Linked DNA regions of Homo sapiens. The protein of the gene in region 2 purifies or fractionates together with the protein of the main gene of each other region. This does not show direct contact. Each region holds a gene or a part of one and is shown on either strand. Other genes may lie near its edges. The genes, in order: OPA3, TMEM154, GIT2 and ARHGEF7.

What was found.
Region 1: the proteins of TMEM154 (region 2) and OPA3 purify together in Homo sapiens (co-immunoprecipitation; 2 studies listed by BioGRID and IntAct, with this or other methods). This does not show direct contact.
Region 3: the proteins of TMEM154 (region 2) and GIT2 purify together in Homo sapiens (co-immunoprecipitation; 2 studies listed by BioGRID and IntAct, with this or other methods). This does not show direct contact.
Region 4: the proteins of TMEM154 (region 2) and ARHGEF7 purify together in Homo sapiens (co-immunoprecipitation; 2 studies listed by BioGRID and IntAct, with this or other methods). This does not show direct contact.

What each region holds. Positions count from the first base shown.
Region 1 is NC_000019.10:45,581,800-45,589,093, forward strand, and holds the start of OPA3 (optic atrophy 3 protein), read right to left. Parts: upstream 3,004-7,294; 5' UTR 2,966-3,003; coding exon 2,824-2,965; intron 1-2,823. UniProt on the Homo sapiens protein: May play some role in mitochondrial processes.
Region 2 is NC_000004.12:152,618,100-152,621,005, reverse strand, and holds the end of TMEM154 (transmembrane protein 154 precursor), read left to right. Parts: 3' UTR 1-2,378; downstream 2,379-2,906.
Region 3 is NC_000012.12:109,993,344-110,001,062, forward strand, and holds the start of GIT2 (ARF GTPase-activating protein GIT2), read right to left. Parts: upstream 3,026-7,719; 5' UTR 2,882-3,025; coding exon 2,830-2,881; intron 1-2,829. Other genes in the region: ANKRD13A (ankyrin repeat domain-containing protein 13A), read left to right, coding at 6,346-6,441. UniProt on the Homo sapiens protein: GTPase-activating protein for ADP ribosylation factor family members, including ARF1.
Region 4 is NC_000013.11:111,118,294-111,125,329, reverse strand, and holds part of ARHGEF7 (rho guanine nucleotide exchange factor 7), read right to left. Parts: intron 1-7,036. UniProt on the Homo sapiens protein: Acts as a RAC1 guanine nucleotide exchange factor (GEF) and can induce membrane ruffling. Functions in cell migration, attachment and cell spreading. Promotes targeting of RAC1 to focal adhesions. May function as a positive regulator of apoptosis.

The DNA.
Region 1 (7,294 bases), on a different chromosome or scaffold from region 2:
TGTTTGTTTGTTTGAGATTGAGACAGTCTTGCTCTGTTGCCCAGACTGGAGGGCAGTGGTGCAATCTCGGATCACTGCAACCTCTACCTCCTAGGTTCAAGCAATTCTCCTGCCTCAGCCTCCTGAGTAGATGAGATTACAGATGTGCGCCACCACACCCAGCTAATTTTTGTATTTTCAGTAGACACGGGTTTTCACCATGTTGGTCAGGCTGGTCTCGAACTCCTGACCTCATGATCCACCCACCTCGGCCTCCCAAAGTGCTGGAATTACAGACGTGAGCCACCGCGCCCCAGCCAGGAGTCTTACCATTACTCAAATCAGTCTCCCTGAGCATTCAGGGAGATTTTATTTTTATTTTATTTTATTTTTTTTTTTTGAGATGGATTTTCACTCTTTCGCCTGGGCTGGAATGAAGTGACGCGATCTTGGCTCACTGCAACCTCCATCCCCGGGTTCAAGCGATTCTCATGCTCCAGCCTCCCGAGTAGCTGGGATTATAGGCGCCCGCCACCAAGCCCGCCTAACTTTTGTATTTTTAGTAGAGACGGGGTTTGACCATGCTGGCCAGGCTGGTTGCAAACTCCTGACCTCAGGTGCTCCACCCCCCTCAGCCTTCCAAAGTGCTAGGATTACAGATGCGAGCCAATGGGCCCAGCTGGAGCAGAGTTTTTTTGTTTTTTGTTTTTGTTTTGAGACGGAGTCTCGGTCTGTCGCCCAGGCTGGAGTGTAGTGGTGCGATCTCGGTGGAGCAGAGTTTTTAAGGATAACTTGATGGGTGAGGGGAAGCCAGTGAGCCAGGAGTGCTGATTGGTCAGAGATGAAATCACAGGGAGTCGGAGCTGTCTTCTTGCGCTCAGTCAGTTCCTGGGTTGGGGGGCCACAAGATCAGATGGGCCAGTTTATTGATCTGGGTAAGGCCAGCTGATCCATCAAGTGCAGGGTCTGTGAAATATCTCAAGCACTGATCTTAGGAGCAGTTTAGGGAGGGTCAGAATCTTGTACCCTCCAGCTGCATGACTCCTAAACCATAATTTCTAATCTTGTGGCTAATGTTAGTCCTACAAAGGCAATCCAGTCGCCAGACAAGAAGGAGGTCTGCTTTGGGAAAGGGCTGTTACCATGTTTGTTTAAACTATAAACTACAAACTAAATCTCTCCCAAAGTTAGTTCAGCCTTTGCCCAGGAATGAACAAGGATAGCTTGGAGGTTAGAAGCAAGATGGAGTAAGTTAACTTAGATCTCTTTCGCTGTGTCAGTCATAATTTTGCAAAGGCGGTTTCAGTGGTTCTCTGACCCAGCCAATGATGCTAAATTCCCTTATTTTATGTCCCACGTAGCACAACACAGATCACCTTTTTTTTTTTTGGAGACGGAGTCTTGCTCCGTCACCCAGGCTGGAGTACAGTGTTACGATCTCGGCTCACTGCAAGCTCCGCCTTCCGGGTTCACGCCATTCTCCTGCCTCAGCCTCCTGAGTAGCTGGGACCACAGGCGCCCAGCCACCACGCCCGGCTAATTTTTTTGTATTTTTAGTAGAGATGGGGTTTCACCGTGTTAGCCAGGATGGTCTCCATCTTCTGACCTCGTGATCTGCCCACCTCGGCCTCCCAAAGTGCTGGGATTACAGGCGTGAGCCACCGCGCCCGGCAAGATCACCTTTTTAAAGTAGTTTATATTTTGGGTGTTTACTAAGCCCTTTATTTCTATTTATTATTTTTTGAGACAGTCTTGCTGTGTCGCCCAGGCTGGAGTGCAATGGCACAATCTAGGCTCACTGCAGCCTCCACCTACCAGGTTCAAGCGATTCCCCTGCCTCAGCCTCCCAAGTAGCTGGGATTACAGGTGTGCGCCACCACACCCAGCTAATTTTTGTATTTTTAGTACAGACCGGGTTTCACTATGTTGGCCAGGCTGGTCTCGAACTCCTGGCCTCATGTGATCCGCCCGCCTCGGCCTCCCAAAGTGCTGGTATTACAGGTGTGAGCCACCGCGCCGGACCTTACTATGCCCTTTAGATCTGAGCTCGGGCGGCCCCCTCTAGGCAGCCCTGCTGGCCTCAGGTCCCTGGGTCAGCCAGTTCCTCTGAGCTCCGGGGCTCCCACTTTCCCGACCACTCTGGGTTGACAGTGATGGATCAGGAGTATATCTCCCAGTGCTGAGCAAAAAGGCCGCATAGTCTGTCAACCGAATGAAAGGACGGCGTATGAGCGCATTAATGAGTACACAGATGAATGTCCTCTCTGGCTCAAAGTCCTTTTCCGGATTCCCAGGCCATGTCTCCAGAACCCAGACTTCACCCCCGAACCATGCCCCTAATCCAGACTTATTGACTACAGTAAAACTGAGGCACGTCGACGTCCTAAACGGAGGATATACAAGCACCTCCTAGATCAGTGGGGAAACTGAGGCACACGGTGCCGCTTTTGAAATGAAGTTGCCCAAGGACAGCCGGGCAAAGGACCCCGTCCGGTTTCTCCTCAGCCCCTCCCCTAGCTCCTCTATCCTGGAAAGCCCCGTCCAAATTTCTCCCATCTCTCACACTATTGGTTTAACAGGGCATCAGTCTCCAAGCGCTCTCTTCCTTTATCGGCTGGCATTTCCTACTCGCGTGGTGGCTCCTTGACCCGCCCCTTACGCCCCGCCCCGCCCTCACTACTGGGCCACCCGTACGCCCCTCTATCAGAAACCCCCCACTATTGGCCACTGGACTTTGCCGGTTCGGGCTGTGATTGGTCGTAGACAGAAGTCCATCCCCTAAGCAACCACCTGACAGGGGTTGGAGAAAGGAAAAAGGTTGGAGGGAATTCGGGTCAGACTCACGTTGAGCCGGCGGGAGGCAGATATAGGTCTTGAAGAACTCGCTTCGGCGGGCGGCCTCCTTAATACGGTTGGCAAGCGGCTTGCTGACCTGCCGGATGCCCAAGTATAGCAGCTTCGCCATAGGGAACGCGCCCACCACCATCTTGGCGGTCTCACAGGGCACGCGCAACCTTGCTGACTGGGCGGGGCGCCTCAACCTCTTCACTCCTCCCCCGCCCTCTCGTGGCCATGCGTGCGTCAGTACGTATGTACGTACGCTCGAGGGAAACTTCAGAGGCGCATCCTGACGTCACCCCGTCGACGCTGGCGTAGCGACGTCCGTTCGCTGAATATGCAAATATACACGGAAGTGAGGCGGGTCAGGGGGCGGTGCCGTTAAACGGATGCTGGAAGGCGTGTGGATTCCCACGCCCGCCTTGGCCAACGTCACTGTACTCCTTCGTGATGTCACGTTCCGAGTTGGCGTCCCCACCCAAAGGAGGCTCTTAATTAGTCCTAATTAGTCCTATGAGCCCCAAATACACCTTCCTCTGCAAGCTAGGGCTCTCATTGGGATTAAGAGGAAGCCGCGCGGTCATACAGACTTTGGCTGGGATCCCAGCTCTGCCATTTCCTCGCTGTGTAATATTAGATGAGTGGCATAACCTCTCTGGACTTCAGTATTACCGTCTACCAAATGGGAATCCTAATAGCAGTTGCCTCTTTGGGTTGTTGTGAGGCTTCTATGCTAATCTTGAGTGTAAAACAGTGGACCATGGGAAGTGGTTAGAATGGTGCCATTCATATAGTTAAGCGCTCAGTAAATAGCCCTTCTTACTATACAGGTCATGATTGCATTATTAATGCTAAATCCAGCCTGAGGGTGCATTTCACCCCCAGAAGCAGCGAATCCAACCCTTTCCCAAGTAACTGACAAGGAAACTGAGGCCCAGAGCAGGGCAGGGGGTGGCACAAGGTTCCTGCAGAGGTTGATAGCCTGGCATCTTGGCCAATAAAACCATACCCGTTCTCAAGCAACCCAACTTCCTTCATTAGGAGGTAGGTTCCCCAGGGAGCTAGTTCAGAAATAAATTTAAGGACATGTCCCAGACTGTCCTTTCTTACCCAGCAGGGAGTAAAATCATATAAACAATGTCAGGAAGGGGTTGAGAGAAATTCCTGGATGATGGAGTGCTGATGGGTAATTGAGAGATTCTCGGAGGCAGAGGGACAGAAGAAAACAGGAACAGAGGACTGGCCGCCATGGCTCACGCCTGTAATCCCAGCACTTTGGGAGGCTGAGGAGGGTGGATCACCTGAGGTCAGGAGTTTGAGACCAACCTGGCTAACATCGTGAAATCCCATCTCCACTAAAAAAAAAAAAAAATTTAGCCGGGCATGGTGGCGGGCACCTGTAATCCCAGGTACTCTGGAGGCTGAGGCAGGAGAATCGCTTGAACCTGGGAGGTAGAGGTTGCAGTGAGCCGAGATCACGCCGCTGCACTCCAGTCTTGGCGACAGAGCGAGACTCCGTCTCAAAAAAAAAAAAAAAAAAAAAAGGAAAACAGGAACAGAGGAGTGGTGTGTAGGAGGAAACATACATTCAGGACACAGAATCAGGGGGCTCTGGACTTCTTTGGTATCCAGTCTGACTCTCTGAGTGTCCTTTGTCAAGCTCCTGGCACTGAGGGACCTGCGTTTCCTCATCTTTACTGATGGTGCTGGTGTGTGTGTGAACCCTGATATTCTGAATTACTAAGAATGCCAGGATTCCATAAAAACAACCTTTTCCAGGGTCCCTTCCACACGGAAGGTATGCAGAAACTTGGGACTACCTAAGGTCCATCATCCATTTGGGACCAGCCCCCTTCCCATTTTACAGATCGTTTGAGCCTGGGAGGTTGAAGCTGTGGTGAGCCATGAGCTCCACTGCACTCCAGCCTAGGCAACACAACAAGACCCTGTCTCAAAAAACATAAAATTTCTGTCCCCAGGCCGGGCGCAGTGGCTCACGCCTGTAATCCCAGCACTTTGGGAGGCACAGGTAGGCGGATCATGTGAGGTCAGGAGTTCGAGACAAGCCTGGCCAACACGATGAAACCCCATCTCTACTAAAAATACAAAAAATTCGCTGGGCGTGGTGGCGCACACCTGTAATCCCAGCTACTCCAGAGGCTGAGACAGGAGAATCACTTGATCTCGGGAGGCGGAGGTTGTAGTGAGCCGAGATCGTGCCAATGCACTCCAGCCTGGGTGACAGAGCGAGGCTCTGTTTCAAAACAAAACAAAAAAAATTGGCCGGGCGTGGTGGCTGACGCCCAGCACTTTGGTAGGCTGAGGTGGGCAGATCATGAGGTCAGGAGATCGAGACCATCCTGGCTAACACGGTGAAACCCCGTCTCTACTAAAAAAATACAAAAAATTAACCGGGCGTGGTGGCGGGCGCCTGTAGTCCCAGCTACTCGGGAGGCTGAGGCAGGAGAATGGCGTGAACCCAGGAGGCGGAGCTTGCAGTGAGCCGAGATGGCGCCACTGCACTCCAGCCTAGGCAACAGAGTGAGACTCCATCTCAAAAAAAAAAAAAATTGGCCAGGCACGGTGGCTCACGCCTGTAATCCCAGCACTTTGGGAGGCCGAGGCGGGTGGATCACCTGAGGTCAGGAGTTTGAGACCAGTCTGGCCAACATGGAGAAACCCCGTCTCTACTAAAAATACAAAATTAGCAGAGCGTGGTGGCACATGCCTGTAATTCCAGCTACTCGGGAGGCTGAGGCAGGAGAATTGCTTGAACCCAGGAGGCGGAAGTTGCGGTGAGCCGAGATCGCGCCATTGCACTCCAGCCTGGGCAACCAAGAGCGAAACTCAGTCTCAAAAAAAAAAAAAAGAGAGAAAAGAAAAATTCTGGCCCCATCACCTCCATTCCCATAGCTTTACAGCAGTGGGATGGGGTGGGAAGACTACTAGGCCTCCCAGATCCCAGGCCTCCCTCTCTTCTCTAGCCCTCCAGCCCACCAACACCAAAGCCCTGATTTCCGCCATCTCTGTGCTCCCTCCACCCCAGAAAAATCATTGAGTGCATTTTTCCCCCTATTCCTCTCCTCCTTCTTCCTTTCTCTGAGAAGGGTTCCCGGGAAAGTCTTCTGGGAACCTTTGTGAAGGGAGAGGAGGGCCCGGGGGAGCGGGGTGGTAGGAGGGTTGTGAGTGAATCTTCACACCTCAGGAGTCTGTTTACACACCCGTAAGGAGGAAGAGGAGAGGAGACCTTCTCTGAAGGGTGAGGCCTTTTCAGAGCTGGGTGCTTCTTCCTGCTCTCCAGCCTGGTCATGGAACAGTGGCCATTCCTGGTGACCCCTGAGACCAGGGGAGGGAGGGCAGCCTTGGCCATCCTGGGGCATGGGAACACAAGCAGAGATGGGGAGGGGAGAGGGAACCCAAGATGGCTCCAGCGCTGACTCACCAGCCATGGGACCTTGGACTGGTTGCCTGGCCTCTCTGGTGACCGCCCTAGACTAGGGCCTGGGATCCTTCCTGGAAGTTTTTTCTGCTCACAGCCCCTAGTCACCCTTTTCCTGGAATGAGTGAGGTACTCGTGTTTCATAATCCCTCTGGCCCCTGTGCTTCTTCCATTAAAATAAATCCAAGGCTGGGCACGGTGGCTCAAGCCTGTAATCCCAGCACTTTGAGAGGCTGAGGTGGGAGGATCACTTGAGGCCAGGATTTCAAGATCAGCCTGGCCAACATGGAGAAACCCCGTCTCTACTAAAAATACAAAAATTAGCCAGGCGTGGTGGTGCATGCCTGTAATCCCAGCTACTCAGGAAGCTGAGGCACAAGAGTTGCCTGATCCCAGGAGGCGGAGGTTGCAGTGAGCCGAGATCCTGACACTGTACTCCAGCTTGGGCAACAGAGCGAGATTCTGTCTCAAAATAAATAAATAAACAAACAAAAATAAAACTCCAAAAGCTGATCACTGCTCCTTGTTAAATCCACAACCACCACCCACCCGGCCCAACTGACAGCACCTCCCTCTTGGACTCCTGCAGTCACCTCCTCACTGGGCTCCTGACTTCTATCCTTGTCTCCCATATTCCTTTTTTATTTTGAGACAGGGTCTCGCTCTGTCGCCCAGGCTGGAGTGCAGTGGTGCAATCACTGCTCATCACAGCCTCCACCTCCTGGCTCAAGTGATCCTCCGGTCTCAGCCTACCAAGTAGCTGGGACTACAGACACATACCACCATGCCCGGCTAATTTTTAAAATTTCTGTAGAAACTGGGTCTCCCTATGTTGCCTAGGCTGGTCCCAAACTCCTGGCCTCAAGCAGTCCTCCTGCCTCAGCCTCCCAAAGTGCTGGGATTACAGGCTTGAGCCACTGTGCCCAGCCAATCTCCCATATTCTACTCCCCACTCAACAGCCCGTGGGATACTGTTAATACTTAAGTCAAATCACCTTCATCCTCTACTGAGAACCCCCTCATAGCTCCCATTTATCT
Region 2 (2,906 bases):
AAGAGGTAGCCACCCTGGCCAGAAGGTGCTAAACACTAAACATACATCATCTCATTTTAATCCTAGTAATTACTTATGAGGTAGGTTTAGAGAACTTATACCTTGTTCCATGTCTTTCCAACTCCAAAGCACAAGTTTTTAATCACTGCACTGCACTGCATCCCCAATAACTAGCCGTAGGAAAGTGTTTTAAAAGGCATCACTTGGCGGGGTGCAGTGGCTCACACCTGTAATCCCACCACTTTGGGAGGCCGAGGCAGGCGGATCACCTGAGGTCAGGAGTTTGAGACCAGCCTGGCCAACATGGTGAAACCCCCGTCTCAACTAAAAATACAAAAATTAGCCAGGCATAGTGGCATGTACCTGTAATCCCAGCTACTCAGGAGGCTGAGGCAGGAGAATCACTTGAACCTGGGAGGCGGAGGTTACAGTGAGATGAGATCACACCATTGTACTCCAGCCTTGTCTAAAAAAAAACAACAAAAAAACAAACAAAAAAAAGTTTCAGTCATTGTCAAGGATGCCTTAAGGTGAGCATAGCCTGAGATAAGAAGTAACAGAGGCTGCAGGCTGAGATAAGAAGGAACAGAGGCAGTGAAGGCAGGACCCTAGGCCCAGAAGTAATGGTCTATCATGCTGAGAAAAAAGCCAGGGCTTAGAATAGGGGTGATAAGTAAAAAGCCTAGTTTTAAAATCTAAGTGCTGGTAAAGGTTTGGTCACTAGGTGAAAAAATAAAGTTCCCACTTACTAGAGCTGACATAAACAGCATATGATCCTCTTTAAGGTTGCAGTGGAGAGGCATGTCCAGGGACTCTCAAGTTAGAGACAGGTGTGTTTAGTGCTAGAATTGGAAAGACATTCAAGCAGACTGGCATGTTGCCTCTTCACAGCCATAGTCGTGCTGGCTTGCAGGATACTCCAGCCTAGAATGTATATAGGAGTGTGGAGAACAGCAAAATCAGCATTGCTTGGGATTCAGCCTGAGCTCAAGTGGCCCACCCCTGGAGGCATCCAGTGTTCACACTTCCCAAGAGAGAAAACCTGATTGGATGGGTGTTTCAGCAGTCTATTGCTGCTTAAACACCTCAAAACTTAGCAGCTTAAAACAACAACACTCAATTTATTTTTCACACAAATCTGCAATTTGCATGAGGCTCAGTGCAAATGGTTCAACTCTCTCCCACACGGCATTGGCTGGGCAGTTCAACTGGATCTGGGGGTCCCACTTTCAGATGACTCACATGGCTGGCAAGTTTGTTCTGGCTGTCGGATAGGAGCCCAGCCAAGCCTGTGGTCCAGCGGCCTTGGCTTTTATGATGTGGGCCTCTCCATAGACTCCTTGGGCTTCTTCACAGCATGGCAGCTGAGTTCCAAGAGCAAGTGTCCCAAGAGAGCAAAGTAGAAATGCATAGTATTTTTATAATTTAGACTCAGAAATCACATCACATCACTTCTGCCATACTTTATTGTTTGAGACAGTTACAAAGTCTACCTAGGTTCAAGGTGGAAAGGACATAAACCCCACTTGTCCTTGGAGGCGTGTCAAAGCCACATTATGAGAAGAGCAAGTGGGATAAGGGATTTGTTGCAGGCACCGTTGGAAAATGTGATCTGCCCAAATTGGTGTGTCTTCATGCAATATCGAGGAAATATATTAGGTAGTTTCGTGTCAAGGAACATTGTGGATATTTGACCTCCCTGAATCCCAGTGCCTATGTGCTCTTTGGCTTGGACATAGACCCCTGGTCCAGTAGTCTGTAGTAGGTGGTAGAACTAGTTTTACCAACTACATGAGTCATGAGCCATGGGACTGAATGGGTTGTAGGTGGATCAGACACATAGAAATGTATGACTACTCTCAAAGCATGAGGTTAAAATGGGAGCAGATTAGACTGAGCACCTTGAGGATAGGGATCAGTCTTACTCATCTCTGTATCCTGAAAAGTGCTTGGCGCTACTGCACGCTCCATAATAACAGAAAAACCAATTATTTAATGAGCTAGGAGTTACATATCATCTTTCCTTAAGTACCTAATCAGTCTTTATCATCAGTGAGTGCAGAACTCAAATATGGTATTGTTCATCTTCCATCACCATTTTCTCCCAAGTTTCCTGGTTTAATTGCATTTTCCTCACTTTCCATCTAATGGATCCTGATGTCATTCTTTATCTTTATTTCATATTGTCCTATTGTGTGTATTGTATTGTATTTTTAGCTACATTAAATCCAATATGGAAGGAAGCAGAGAACGATCATAATTGAACTAACAAGCAAGTGGAGGTGGAGAGAAAGTGGCCCCAATTTGGAAGGTGAAGGAAAACTGGGGATGGAGCCTAACTGATCATTAAAATGCTCGAAGCAGCTCTTTCCAACCCAGATCTGAGCTTCTCTTCTTTGCCCTCTGGAGGGTCCACAGAGAAAGGAAATACAAGTTTTATTAAGAAAAAGAGGAAAGCATCTATTTTAGGTGATAATACAAGCACAGAGAAGGATTGTTTCTTCTCTGGGCAGGAAGACAGATTCACAAAATAAGAGGCACTGTAAATCCTTCCTGAGATGTTCCCCAGCACCTCTGAATGTCACTGAGACCAACTAAGCCAGTTAATGGGCTAAGACCCACTTACCTCTTAACTCCATGAAATCCATGCAGAAATACCTCCATCTTGTTACAAGTGCCAATTGATTGCTTTTTACCTGGCATGAAGGTGCCTTTCTGTTCATAACCCACCCTGTCCCATTCCTAAGGGAACCCCATCCTTCCTCTTGGCTTGTACTGTTAGACCCTCTGCCTTCCGGCAACTGAGATGAAGATTCTAAGGAAGCAGCCACATGAACTCACGTCAGGATCAGTGTTCCAGGGGCGTCCAGAGCATGAGCAAGAGAAGCAGGGTGGGAGGATGTGGG
Region 3 (7,719 bases), on a different chromosome or scaffold from region 2:
AATGCATGTACACCATCTTTACCATTTTTTAAGAGTTTATTCAAACCCTTTCAAACCATATAATGAAAAGTTATGGGCTTTCAATCAAAGACGAATCCTGGGAGCCAGTGAGTATGGTGGTTAAGAGGGTTGGCTCTAGAGACAAGGAGTTCAGGGTTTGAACCCCAACTCTGCCACTTCTTGCACAATGATCTCAGACAAGTTACTTGAGTGTTTTCACCATGGTTCAAATGAGAACAATGACAAATCTCGGGATAGTAAGGATATAGAGAATAAGTGAAGTACCTCACACATAGTAAAGTAGTAATGTTAGTTGTTATATCTTTTCTAAATTATTTTCTCAGTATTCAGATATTTTCTAGACGTGAAATTCATGATCACTGGACAAAGTTTTTGATGGGAAATACTTAAAACATTGAACATTTCATGTGACCACTCTACTACTGTACTGAAAATCTCCATGGAGTTTTCAAGTAATTGAACTCAGAGTGTGATGTATTTGAAATGAACCAGATTCATTAAAAAAAAAAAAGTAGAATATTTAAGAAGATGTGATCATGGTTAAATGTTTGCATAAAATAAAACAGAATCAAAATAATTCAATTTAGTATAACTCTGTCGCTATTACTGTATCATCCTAAAAAGCAGAGATTGGAAATGTCCAGATGAAGGAGCTCTACAAAGATGCATTAACAACACTGCTTCCTGCAGTATAGTACTGACACTAATGGCAAAAAAAAAAAAAAAAAAAAAAGACTGTTTTGAAGCATAGCTTTGGTTTTCACTTATTCAGAGGATTTGCAGTATTCTTTTTTTAGCAAGTATTTAACACATATTAATTAAGACAAGTATTCGACTAACCACTTTAGCATCCTGGATCAGAATCCCATGGAAAGAATATTAGAATGTTAACATAGTAAAATAAAAATGTTTGTATGAATGAGATTGGGTAAAACCCTTTAAGTTCATCTGGAGCCAGGGCTCCAGGGACACCACAAATGAACTTCAAAAATGTTTGTGACTCCCCCAGACAAATCTTAGGTAAATTCGTTCACGTGCATTTTAGGGGAGAAGGCCTTAGCATTCAACAGAATCTCAAAGGGGTCCCTAACCCTACAGGTAATTCTCTCAGTAGGGCTGTGCAGAAAAGGCAGCACAAATTCCCAGCTGCTCAATTTCACAGAATATTTCAAGGTAGCCTAATTATATTCAAAACAGGAAGGAAGTGACTCAAGTCTCTGCAGATTAGGCGTATGAGACAACAACTAAAGCGATACAATGGAAGAGAAAATGTTCTGAAATGCACAAAATGCTGCAAAAGTATATTTAGGATGGCAATGGAGGAACAATTTTGCTTTGCCCTGTACCCTATCAAGAAGCAAAACAATATGCATTCCAAGAGGAAGTTAGAAGCTAGACACATGTGAATCAAATACATCACGGTAAGTTCAACTGAAAATAGGCAAGAAAATAAGGAAGTGGAACAAATAACATTTTTAGAGAAAATGATGGAGTTTGTATAACTCACACTAACTTGGTTTAGAAAACACTTCTTTTTAAACTCCTCCATACCCCCTCCCTATCTTCAAAGGAAACTGGTAACACCTGCACTGTACGGGCCATAAAACAACCACATGAGGTTTGAGTTATCACAGTTCTATTTACAATTGGTCTCCACTTCCAAATGACAAGCTTAAGATCAGAACAGTTGCAAAGCCAGTGGTGTTCAATGATTTAATTAAGATTGTTTATCGGACACTATTGTGCCAAGAAAGCCATGTTACCTTCGAATTAACTCAAAGCCAATACATCCAAGCACCTAAAACAGCATGTAATAATCTATCCAGAGACCTGACAATTCAGTTGCAATTGCTAAGACACACTTGATCTCTAAATGTGAATATTATGTATGAACAGTTATGCATCATTATGAAGGAATGGCTTTAGCGTTTCAATGCCCCTATATTGCTGGTGATTTTGCGTTTGTTTCCGTTGTAATCAACGTATGATTTAGATAGTCAAATATAGCTTTAAGGGACTACAAGAGTTCTACTGTAGACAGCATAATGCAAAAAAGAAAAGCCTTAGATGATATGATTCTACGAGTATTCATTGAATCTTCCTCACCACTAAGCGTGATACTCCCGATTATCCTCATTGAAAAAAATGAGGAAATCAAGCAAGTGACCAAGTGAAGTCACCAGCCCAAGGTCAGCCAGAAGCAAAATCTAGTTTGAACCCAGGCCGTTCAGATCCTCAAACTTGAGACAAGCACTGCCTCCTAAGTGCTGGTTGTGTTTGGAAGACCCCGATCTCCTGGCAATTCTCCCGGGCAGAGTAGCTGTCGGATGTCAGCAGCGGGGAAGTCATCTACGGGGACCCTCTGGCGAGTCTCAGGGAGTGTCATCCTCCCCGGGCAGGACACCCAGGCGGAGAAAGGGTCTAGTGGGAGGTGACACCTGCAGCCTCTGGAGGCTGCAGCCGGGAGGACGCTCACATTTTACTTCTGTAATTGGCTTTCCTGTGGATTGCCCAAGCCCCTTCCTGTTGGGGGAGCAGCCCTGGCCCCCGTCACCTCCCCAGTTGGCCTAGGACGGAGGGAACGGGAGGGAACGAGAGGGAAGGGAGGGCCGCGAGGGACGGGGAGGGCGGCGGCCCCCTGCCCGCCCGGCTCTGACAGGCCCGGGACGGTTCCCACCCCAAGGCCGCCCAGGGACCTCTTCGTTGCGACCCTAGCCGCGGGATGCAGCCTGACCTGAGGGGGCGGCCCCGGGGTAGGGGTCCGGGCCAGGAAAGCAGAGGGGAGCGGGCCCGGCCGGTGCGACTCACCCGGCCCGCTGCAGTCAGCGCACACCTCGCTGCTCCGGAGCCGTTTCGACATGGCTCCCACCTCCCACCTGCGGGGAACTAGAGGCCGGGGGACAGCAAAGGCGGCGGTGGCGGCGGCGCTTCCGCTCTAACGGGTCCCAGCTGCGGCGGCGCTGACGGCGGCGCCTCTCCCCTCAGCGCCTTGCAGCCTTGGCACAGCACGCACGCGCGGGGAGGTGCCCTTCGGCGAGTGTCAGGTCATGTGACCGGAAAGGGCACTCTGCCTTGTCGCCATCTTGAGTGAGGGCAGGAGACTGCCCGAGTATCATCTGTCCTACCTTTAAATATTGAATTTGGGTCTTCTTCTCTGGCAGAGATTCCCCTCGTCCCAACTGATTAATACCAGGGGAAGTAGCAATATCTTGTGATGAGAACCCTGCAGCCACAACCTTCCTGAGGCAATCAATGGTCAAGTTCATTCATTCATTCCTTGATTCAACAAATGTTTATCAAGCACTTACCATGCTTTATATACTGTCCCAGCCACTGGAGAAACAGCAGTGAGCAAAGACTGAATTTCTAGTCCTTATGAAGCTTGCATTTTACTGGGGTAAAGTAAAATAAGAATATATTATATGATTCCAGGCTGGGCGTGGTGGCTCACTCTTGTAATCTCAACTCTTTGGAAGGCTGAGGCAGGAGGATCACTTGAGGCAGGAGTTCGAGACCAGCCTGGGCAACATGGTGAAACCCCATCTCTACTAAAAATACAAAAATTGGCCGGGCGCGGTGGCTCACGCCTGTAATCCCAGCACTTTGGGAGGCCGAGGCGGGTGGATCACGAGGTCAGGAGTTCAAGACCAGCCTGGCCAACATGGTGAAACCCCGTCTCTACTAAAAATACAAAAATTAGCCGGGCACAGTGGCAGGAGCCTGTAATCTCAGTTACTTGGGAGGCTGAGGCAGGAGCTTGAACCCAGGGGGTGGAGGTTGCAGTGAGCTGAGATCACGCCATTGCACTCCAGCATGGGCGACAGAGTGAGACTCCGTCTCAAAAAAAAAAAAAAAAAAAAAAAAATTAGCCGGGCGTGGTGGCGCATGCCTGTAATCCTAGATACTCAGGAGGCTGAGGCATGAGAATCGCTTGAGCCTGGGAGGTGGACGTTGCAGTGAGCAGAGATCGCGTCACTGCACTCCAGCCTGGGGGACAGAGCGAGACTGTCTCAAAAACAACTTCAACAACAACAACAAAAATAACAAAAAAGAATATATTAGATGATTCCTTAGGCTTCAGTTTTAATCTCATGTTCAAAATTAAGATAATGCATTGTTTACTTCTAGTCCACGATTTGTTTTTGTATGGCTTGCTACTTAAGAATGATTTTTACATTTTTAAAGGGTTGCGAGATGAAAATGAAGAAGAGAGAGAGGGAAATAAAGAAAAAGAGGAAGAAGAATATGCGACAAAACTTGTATGTGACCAGCAAAGTTAAACATTCATTTTGGCTAAGGACAGATGGAATAAATTATGGGAAAAATGTGATACACCTGCTGGATAGTAACCCCTCAGTAAATAGTAGCTCCCATAATTATGGATATTGCTATTATTTTCTAATTACTGTTTTTCTTCATATGCGTGGAATTTGAGAATAACAATAGCTAACATGGGATAATTTACAAAATGGTGTGAGATAAACACAATGAAATGAGGTAAATCAGTGTGAAGGAGAAAGGAGATGTGACCCTAATACCAATGACTACTTATTGTCTGTCTTACATATAAACACAGCTATGATCTCCATTCAGCAAATATTGAATGCCTGTTGTTAGCCAGGTACTATTTTGGTTTTAGATACTCTGGTAAGCAAAACGATGTGGTTCCTGTCATTATGGGGTTTTCTGATTAATGAGATAGGGAGATTTTCAATAAACACGGCATGATGAAGAAGAAGGAGAACGTTAAGTTGCAAAAGGCATCTGAAAGAATGAGAAGTGCTGGAAAAGGCCTCAGAAGCACTGGTCTTGAGTCCATCTCTACAGTGTGATAAATGTGTGATGGAGAAATAATCACAGAATTCCCACGCATTCCATGGTTAGAGTCTCCGGGTGCCATCCTGGTGCTCCTGCATCCTGTTTTGGTTTAACAACTCACAAATCTTCTGGGCTCCACATCTGTGGAGAATGGATTAGGTTGGGATTCTTGAACAGCTGTTGTTGCAGGCATCTGAAGAGCTGGATGTGCATACACTCAGAGGGCAGAGGGAATGTTTTCACAATGCATTAAATAGCTTCATCCAGCTATGTGGTCTAGTTGTAGACAGCTGAGCTGAAGCAGCAGCAGAAAGTTCAAGCCCATGAGTAGCTAGCTGTAAGTTGATTTGGTTCTTCATTGAGTCAAGGAGGCATAGTGCCTGAAACTCAAAGAATAAACTTCATATTCGCAGACTGTGGTCAAATATGTATATTATTTATCAGTCCTTTCAGCCATAACCTCAAATCCAAAAAGCTAGCTTAAAAATGACATTCATACATGGACTAAATCACCACCATAGTTAGCTATTGAATCATAACCCGGTTCGGAGTTCAAATAGAAGCGGTTCTCAACTGAGGACGATTTTTCTCCCCGAGACGACATTTGGCAATATCTGGAGAGACATGTTTTGGGGAGTGCTACTGGCATTGAGTGGGGAGAAAGACCAGGGCAACTGCTCAGCATCCTACAAGGACCGGACAACCCCCACACAAAAACTGCCCAGTTCAATATGTGCCGAGGTTGAGAAATCATGAAGTAGAAATATCCCCTTTTATGCAAATACTGTATTTGAAGCCACTTCGCCAGGGTTTAGCGTTCCTCCTTCAAAAATTGTCCGGTGTTGCCCACTTCCAAAATGGCTTTTGACCCGTCGTGGAAGCATCTGTCCTGCTCCAAAAAGGCTGCAAGGGTGTCGGCAGCTGGAATGGTTTGGTCCGGGGCTCAGTTGTCACCCCCTGACTTCAGAGCCAATGGAAGAGGCCCAGTTGTGGACCGAACCACATGGGGCTACTGGAGCAGGGGGAAAGAAGCTGGGGACAGGTAGACGGAACTTTCCGCGTGGAGATCTTTGGCCAAGAGAATGAGCCTCAGCTCTGTTCTGTGGGCTGCACTGAGTTTCTCGGTGTGAGCTGGAGGTGGGTGCAATGGCGCGGACCCCGGACCCGGTGCCCAAGGTCGCCTATCCCCGCCGCGGCATGCGGTGGTTCGCTCTCCGCACTTCCCTGTTTGGGGCAGTTAGGTCCGCAGAAGTCTGTCCGCGAGCTGTCAGCGCGGGCGGGAACGCCGCGGGGCGCGGGGTGGGCGCGGCCGACCTGGTCCCTGAGCCGGCCGGCGACCCCGGACCTCCCGCGCGCCCCGCACCCGACCGGCTCAGCCGGCCGGCAGCGTAACACGCCCTACGCTCGCTTGCTCGCCGGCCTCAGGGCAGGCAGGCGGGCGCGGGAGACCCCGCCGGGGCCGAGACTTGGGGCGGGCGACGAGGACCAGGTTACGGCCTCCTCGCCATGTCCTCGGCCTGCGACGCGGGCGACCACTACCCCCTGCACCTCCTAGTCTGGAAAAACGACTACCGGCAGCTCGAGAAGGAGCTGCAGGGCCAGGTGAGGGGCGGGGCGGGGGTCCGTCTCCCGGTGGGGACTTCGGGGAATCGGGGGTCGTTTCGCCTCCCTGAGCCCATTTCCAGCCCTCTGTCCCCGGGATCCCCAGACCCCTTCCACTTTGCAGGTGTGGGACAGTCCTAATAATAGGACACGTATCGAGTGCTTACCGTGCGACGGGCTTTTTAAATATCTTCTCTCTTCACCTTTCCAATAACGCTGGTGGGTAGGTACTGTTACTTTTCCACTGGACAGAGAAGGAAACAGGTCCTCAGACGCTACGTGCCTTGTGCGAGGCCGCCCCGCTGATAAATGCCAAGTCGGGATTTTAACTCGGGCCGGCTGGCTCCGGAATGCACCGTCTTAACCATTTTTAGGTTCTGCTGCCTCAAAGACGTAAGAATAGCACACTCTCCTTGTTGTAAGGAAGGGCTTGGTTGGTTTTGGAGTCCAGGTTCTAACTCGCCCTGTGACCTTGGGCAAGGCATTTTCCCTCTCTGGCCGACGTTAACTTAGCTGTAGAATGAGGATGTTGGTGCTGGGGCAGAACCCAACACTTGACTCTATTGATAGGTCTGGGGTGAGGTCCAGGTGCCGCATTTTTAACAAACTCCCCAGGGAGGCTGATACCTAGCAAAGTTTGAGAATCACGGGTTCTCAGGCTCCTTAAAATCCCTTCCTGTTCTAAAGTGCTTTGATGCTTTAATCTTTTCATTATTGCTATCTCTTTAAAGCAGTAGTGCTCTCAGTTGGAGGTGATTTTGCACCCACGACCCCCCGGGGACATTTGGCAATGTATGGGACATTTTTGGTTGTTGAAAGTGGGGAGTGGGTGCTTCTGGTAGTGGGTAGAGGCCGGTTATGCTGCTCAACATCCTACAATGGCCAAGACAGCCCCCCGCAACTAAGACTTCTCCGGCCCCCAAAGCCGACAGCGTCTTGGTTGAGAAACTCTGCTTTTCTTTCTTTCCTTCTTTTTTTTTTTTTTTTTTTGAGACTGAGTTTCGCTCTTGTTGCCCGGGCTGGAGTGCAATGGTGCGATCTCGGCTCACTGCAACCTCCGCCTCCTGGGTTCAAGCGATTCTTCTGCCTCAGCCCCCCAAGTAACTGAGATTACAGGGATGCACCACCACGCCCGGCTAATTTTGTATTTTTAGTAGAGATGGGGTTTCTCCATGTTGGTCAGGCTGGTCTCAAACTCCCGACCTCAGGTGATCCGCCCGCCTCAGCCTCCCAAAGTGCTGGGATTACAGGTGTGAGCCACCACGCCTGGCTGAGAAA
Region 4 (7,036 bases), on a different chromosome or scaffold from region 2:
AAGAACATTTCAAATAACCAGCTTCCAGTTTTGTTTTCTCTAGTAATTTTAAAGTACTCAGAAGAAGAGATATGAAACCCAGGGCATAGGACATGGATATTCATTCATATATTCTCACTCTCTCTCTTTTTCTCATCATGGAAAGATTCCAGGTCCAAAGCAGTACAGTAAAATTATTTCAGCCTCACTTCTCTTGAAAAAAAATCCCTCCAAAACAGCCAGGAGAACAAGAAACACAAGCATCATCTTCAATAAAACTAGAAGACACCTGGTTGGGCGCACTGGCTCACACCTGTAATCCCAGCACTTTGGGAGGCCGAGGTAGGCAGATCACGTGAGGTTAGGAGTTTGAGACCAGCCTGGCCAACATGGTGAAACCCTGTCTCTACTAAAAATACAAAAATTAGCCGGGCATGGTGGCGCACACCTGTAGCCTCAGCTACTCGAGAGGCGGGGGCAAGAGAATCACTTGAACCCGGGAGGCGGCCGTTGGAGTGAGCCGAGATCGTGCCATTGGACTCCAGCTTGGGTGACAGAGTGAGATTCTGTCTAAAAAACAAAACAAAACAAAAAAAACTAGAAGACACCTATCCCCAGGCCACCATTATGAAGGCAGGGAGCAGACGGAGGATGGGTGGGGCTTCAGCAGAGACTAGAAGGTCCCATCCCAGTAGCCAGTGGCAAGTGCACCCTCCCAGGTGGTAGACAAGCCACCTGTCTGAGAGTCAGATGCAGGCCTAGGGGCCCCAGCCCCATCACAGCTGGCCACCCCTCTTGCCATCCTTGCAGGGGTCCGAGGCTTATTCTCTGGGGAAAAGTGAACCAAAGAGGCCAGAACATGGAGAGGGCCAGCATGGACAGGAGCCAAGGTGAGGATGGACACTGCTCTGATAGGCAGCAGATGGAGGAGTCTCTGGAGAGACTCACGGCTGCTGGAGAAGAGACCAACAGGTTCAGACTTCTGGGCATCACCAGGCTGCCCCATGGCGAGACCTGCATGTCCCTGGGCCCCAGCAGTCACACAGGACTTCCTGGTCATTTTGAGGGCCTCACACTTGAAAGATCACATGATGTTTCAGTAAATCTCCAACATGGAAAAAAAGAATTGCATAAGAGGACTCAGAGGAAACAGAGACAGTGAATGCAGGGAAGGAAGCACCCTTCAAGGAAACTGTAATGAATGTTCACAGGAAGAGAGGAATCTTCCCAGAAACAGGAAGGGACTGACTGAAAGGGAAGAAACAGAGAGAAACCAGATAACGAGAAAAAAGAACTTTTAGAAATTAAAAAAAAAATAGCCAAAGTAGGTCAAAATAAAAAATGTTAGTAGAAAAGTTGGGAGATAAAGTCAAGGAAATGTCTTTCAGAAGGAGAAGAAACATACAAGTGGAAAGGTCAGCAAATGAGAGACTCAACCCAGCAGGCCTGGCAGCCGCAGGGGCAGGGGGCGGGGCCGGGGGGGGGGGGCGCAGCCCACCAGCCAACGATGGCCAGTTACCAGCCGCTCTGGAGCTCCGTTTCCTAATCTGAAAATGGGGGCGATCCTGTCACCACCTCCCTTATAGGGTGGTGAGGAGGGTTAAATCCATTATTATGGGCAAAGTCCTTAGAACAGTGCCTGGCATACAGTATGCACTCAATAGATATTATCTCTGATTAGTCTTAATAAGATTTCTAAAAAATGAGAATAGAGAAAATACTAGAGAGGAAATTATCAAGGAAATAAAGGATATAGAGGGTATTTTAAACAAAGGTACAAGCACTCTTGTGATTGGGATGGACTGTATTTACATATATCGGCATGTCCCCTAGTTAAGAATGGCACGGGCATGTATGTGTGTGTGTGTGATTTGTTATCTATGGCCATGGTAAACCTCAGTGGCTGGCTTGAGTCAGCCTGGTCCGGGCCTGCTGGTGCAGCTGTGCCTGCTCTGGGCAGGGCAGGCAGCTTGCTGACCCTGGCTGGGCTCTCTTCAATGTTTGAGGTTGGCTGGCTGTGGATAGGTCCAGGATGGCCTAGCAGGGACAACTGAGTTCTCCTCCATGTGATCACACCCCACCAGCACCCAAGCCCTGGGGTCTCCTCGGAGGTAGACACAGGGCCTGAGAGAGTGCAGAAAAGTGCAAGCCTTTCCAAGGCCTGGGCTAGGAACTAACACTGGCCACTTCTGCCACAGTCCATTGGCCAAAACAAGTCACAGCTCAGATTCAAGAAGTGAGGAAGCAGACTCCTACCTCTTGATGGAGGCGCTACAAGGTCACTTTGCCAGGGGCATGGGAGGGTTGGAGAATTGGGGCCACTTCTATCGTCTACCCCAACCCTTCTCCACTCTGCTTTGTGTCCTGGGAGGCTGACCTCTATACACAGTATCCCAGGGCCGCCTCCCAGCACAGGCCTTGGAGCCATTTGCTTAGACTACAGTGTGAACGGTTCTCCCAAGACCGGGCAGTACACAGCTTACACAACCACATGCAGGTGCCCTCAGTGAAGCCATCTGCAAAAGGAGGCGTCTGGGCTGGATGACTCTACATTCCTTCATCCTGAGAACTCACAAATACTTTATACCCAAGATCCTAGCATTTCTCTTCTGACCTGCCTGAAGAGGTGGTATGGCTGGCATCCATGCGTGCGCTTCCATGCGTGTGATTGGGTCACTAGCACGCACACAATAGGAACCTGGTAAAAGGGATGATTAAATGAATTCACATACATGTGTTTGAAATACACTGTGCACACATTCCATTTCAGTTCCCCTCACCGCCTCGCCTTGAGACCCCAGCAGACATGACACCATCCTGCAAAAACAGAGTTGAGAACTGCCAGCCTGGTGCATCAAACCTTAAAAATTCAAAGCTAAAGTTAGAAATATAAAAACATCAAGAGATTAATTCTCCTACCCTAACTTGACAGAACTGATAAAGGAGGGAGAAGTCAGAAGCTGTACCCGGGAAGCAGTCGGACCGGGGCGGCCCCAAAGCCCTCTCTCTGCAGACACCAGGTGGGGCAGGCTGGCCCTCACTTCCCATCTCTGACTCCCGGCCCTGCTGATGCATGAAACTTTATATAAGCGAAACCTGAGTCCACCCGCTCAGCCCTCCCGCTCCCCAACCAGCAGCTGTGTGCACTCAGCAGCTGCGCCCAGATCTGGCGCTGACCAGAGGGCCCTGGAAGCCACGTTCAGCAGGCCCACCAACCCAGACAATGGTGGTCTGTCCAGAGTGGGATGCAGAGGCTGCCAGCCCCCGAAAGTTGCAAGAGTCTGCCCTGTTGTGAGAATTAACCCGTGTTCCTGGATTTGGATGGCTCTGAGGTTCAAATCTTGGCTTACAGTCTTCTGGACACGATGGGGAAGGTTTTCAGTGTCAATCAACAAAACAGTAACTACTGCGTACTGAGGAATGACTTTGTGCCCAGCACATCTACTCATTTACCCTGGTAATGACCTCACTGCCCCCACCAGTGGATATCATTCATCTCATTTTTAGGAGGAAGAAACTAGGACTCCGAGAGGTTAGACAGGTGCCGGAAGTCACAGAGCAAATGGCTGCGGGAACAAAGCCAGGTGTGCCTGACTCTGAAGCACGCAGAGGACCGGGTCTCCCAGTGTCTCCAGGCAGGGACCCGTGGGTTCGGGGGATGCCAGTCCTCCCATCTCCCAGCGATGCACGTGGTAGAGTTGCGTGCCCAAAGGGATGATGTGCCTCTGCCACCTCCCTCGTGCAGTGAGAGACGCGTGGGCGTCAAGCCTACACAAGACTCCAATCCAAACGGCTAAAATCCACCCTACACAAGAACAAACGGCTCTGCCCCCACTCACCTCACAGCCCCCATCGCCTCCACTCTTTACATTTTAGAGTGATCAGTGGCCTCTAAAGGGAGAGAGATGTTCGTGTGTACATAGTACTTGAATTTTAAAAGTGTGTGTGGTGTAGATGCACACAGTTTGAAATCTTGGACTAAGTGGAAATCTGGTAAGCCCTACAGAGTAGGGAAGCCCAGAAACTACAGTGAGTTATTGGATGGTACAGGAACACGGAACACACGTTCTGCGGCCGGGGAGAAAGGCCCAGACACAGACTTCTGCAGGAGCTTCTGCAGGTTCCCCCAGGGCAAGGGGCCCTACCCTGGGTGCCTTTGGGGTCTGTCTACTGAAGGGCAGAGCTGCTTCCAGATGTCCCGAGAAGTGAGACACCTGCAGTGGCTCCAGGCACTCCTGAGGGCTCCCACTCTGCCCCTGTGGCCGGTGACCTGAGCCAGCCCCTCCAGTCCTCACTTTTGTCCCCCCTGGGTGCTCAGTTACACTGCTGCCTCCGTCTCCTTTCCTGATCTGGTTTGTAAATTTCTGAAGGCAGTGGTTGCGAATCTTCCCCTAAGTTCAGTATAGGTGGCAGAATCAGTCTTGTTTTCCATGAGAAAGCTCACAGTCTTGAGCTGGAATCTTCCGCCTCCGAGTGCAGCCAGATGACCTGGGGCAAAGCTAACTGCCAGACCTCAGGGTCCTCATCTGCAGTATGGGTATTGCGAGGGACAGCGCCTGCAAACGAGAGGAGCATGCTGCCTGCCATGCTGGGCAGACATCTTATTCTCTTTTAAGATGTATAGAAAGGCAGGCAGTGCCTAAAGAAAGGAGGCGAGCAGGCAGATTCTGGAGTGACTTCTATTAATAGAATGAGGGCCGGGTCCTGAGATGGCATCCTTTGGACTGGGCTTGGAGAGTTCACAGAGCAGCTGCCCCTGAGAAAATGGAATGCCACATGTGCCAGCACTCCTTCCCCCACTCCCTCAACCCCCGTCAGACGTGTCTGTGTGTGCGTGTGTGCGTGTCTATGTACACGCATGTGTCTGTGTGTGTGTGTATTTACATGCATGTGTTTACGTATGTGCATGTTTGTGCAGGCATGCATGCGTGTGTGCATAAGTTCGTGTGTGCACATGCATGTGCAAGTGTGCATGTATGCGTGTGTGTATGCTTGTGTGTGTGCTCTCCTGTGTCTGTGTGATGCCAACATAAACACTAGTTTCTAGTCTGGTTCTCAGGAAATCTCTTCAGGCACTCCTGATTTAAATTGAATTTCAGTTTGTTTGCTTTCTTTTTAGTGAGCCAGCAAATGCAGTTCCAGCTACCTTCTTCCCTAGGCCTGAAACCCAAACAAGAATCACACTGGTTCAGGGTTGAGACAGGACTATAAAGTCACATGCTTCAAAAGGAAATGTTTATTATTGCAAAATTCACTATTCTGGAACCATATTCAGGGTAGTTTAGTTAGAAGCAACTTGATATAACCAGTTATTCAGTTTGCAGGGTTTAAAGAAGTCTCCTTAAAAACACAGTCTGGAGATACCATATTATAACTTCTCTATAAGTGACTTAGCCAATCAACAAGTCTTTATGACGGCTACAGGTCACGGGCCTGAGTGAGAACCTTACCCTACCACCACATGTGATCACTCATCACGTTCTTTTTAGGGCCAAAGGACCTAAGAAAAGGCACATTTCTAGCAGGTGAGCACTTCTGCTTCTCCTCACCCCAGCCCCTAACCAACCCCAGAATCCTGACACTGAGCAGAAAGTGAGTCTCCAGTTTACCTAGAAAAAAGTATTTCCTTTTTTCCTATGCAACATCAGATTTGCTGATTTTCTGCAAGCCTGTGGAAAATCACCTAGGGCTGCCAGGTTACAGTTTGGGAAATGCAAACCATATTCTTACCCACACGTCAGCAAAGTCTTGGGTCTGACCTGCTCAAATGCTGGTCTTTTTAGCTCCTTGATTCTTTTGCTCCTTCTCATCCATATCTGACATTACGACTCTTGACTTCCTTCTGCCTCATGCTGTTCTTGTCTTTCGAGTTACATTTTCTGTACTGGAACCCCCAAGACTCTATTATTTAGGTTTTGCAATCTCCCCTAGCACCTGGCATTGTGCAATCAGATCAATAGCTAATAAACTGATCTGGTTCAAATGTAGAAACAACCTGTCATGAGCTGAACTGTGCTCCTCCAGCATTCGTATTTTGAAGTCCTAACCCCCAGTATCTCAGGATGGGGCCTTATTCAGAAATGAAGTTAATGCAGATGTAATCGGTTAAGATGAGGCCATACTGGGGTAGGGTGCCCCTAATGCAATTCCACTGATGTCCTGCTAAAAAGGAGGAATTTGGACACAGAGAAGAAACCACAGCACGGACATCATGTGAAGATTGGACTTGTGTTGCCACAAGCCAGGAACTACCAGAAGCCTGAGAGTGGCCTGGGACAGACCCCTCCTTGGAGCCTTCTGAGGGCACGAGGCCCTGCAGGTACCTTAATCCCAGACTTTGGGCCTCCAGAGCTGAGAGACAAATGCCTCCACATCCAGCACTAAGACCCGAGGCAGCGTCTGATTTTCAATTACATTCCACAAACACCTAGCCAGGGTTCTCGGGAGCACATCACATGGATTACACAGGAAGGTTCTCTGTGTTCTGTTCTCCTGGGACACACAGAGAAAGAACCAAGTTCCTTGAGTTTTTTATAGTGAGTTAAGAGACTTCATTTGTTGCATTCACAAGTGAAATTAAAAGAGCATTTCATGATTTCCATGATTTTAATGTGTTGTATTAGTCTTATAGAAATTTTCCATCCTCTACAATTCATGTATCTTGATTTCACCTCCTTTGACTAAATACCCTAGGGATGTTTAAAGTGAATTTGTGAGAAAAGGGCTTCCAGGGCTCCCTAGACGTCATGACCTCTGCTCACGGGAGGAGTGTGGGAAGCCGAAGACATGGGCAGCCCAGCCAAACATCCTGACCCCTCCTGGAGAAAACCAAAGTGCAGGATCTCCAGATACAGAGAAGGCGAAAACTTTTTAATCCCATTTTCCTCTCCCCTACAGCAGAAAACATCTGTCCAGTATAATGAAAAGTGTCTCTTTTCTGAACTGTTCATGTAAAGTTTATAATTCCATCTTCTCACTGTCTAACCTTCCACCTTAAAAGCAAAGCGGGAACCTGGGTGGAAAGTTTCCTTTAAATGAGCAGAAGAATCTGACACGC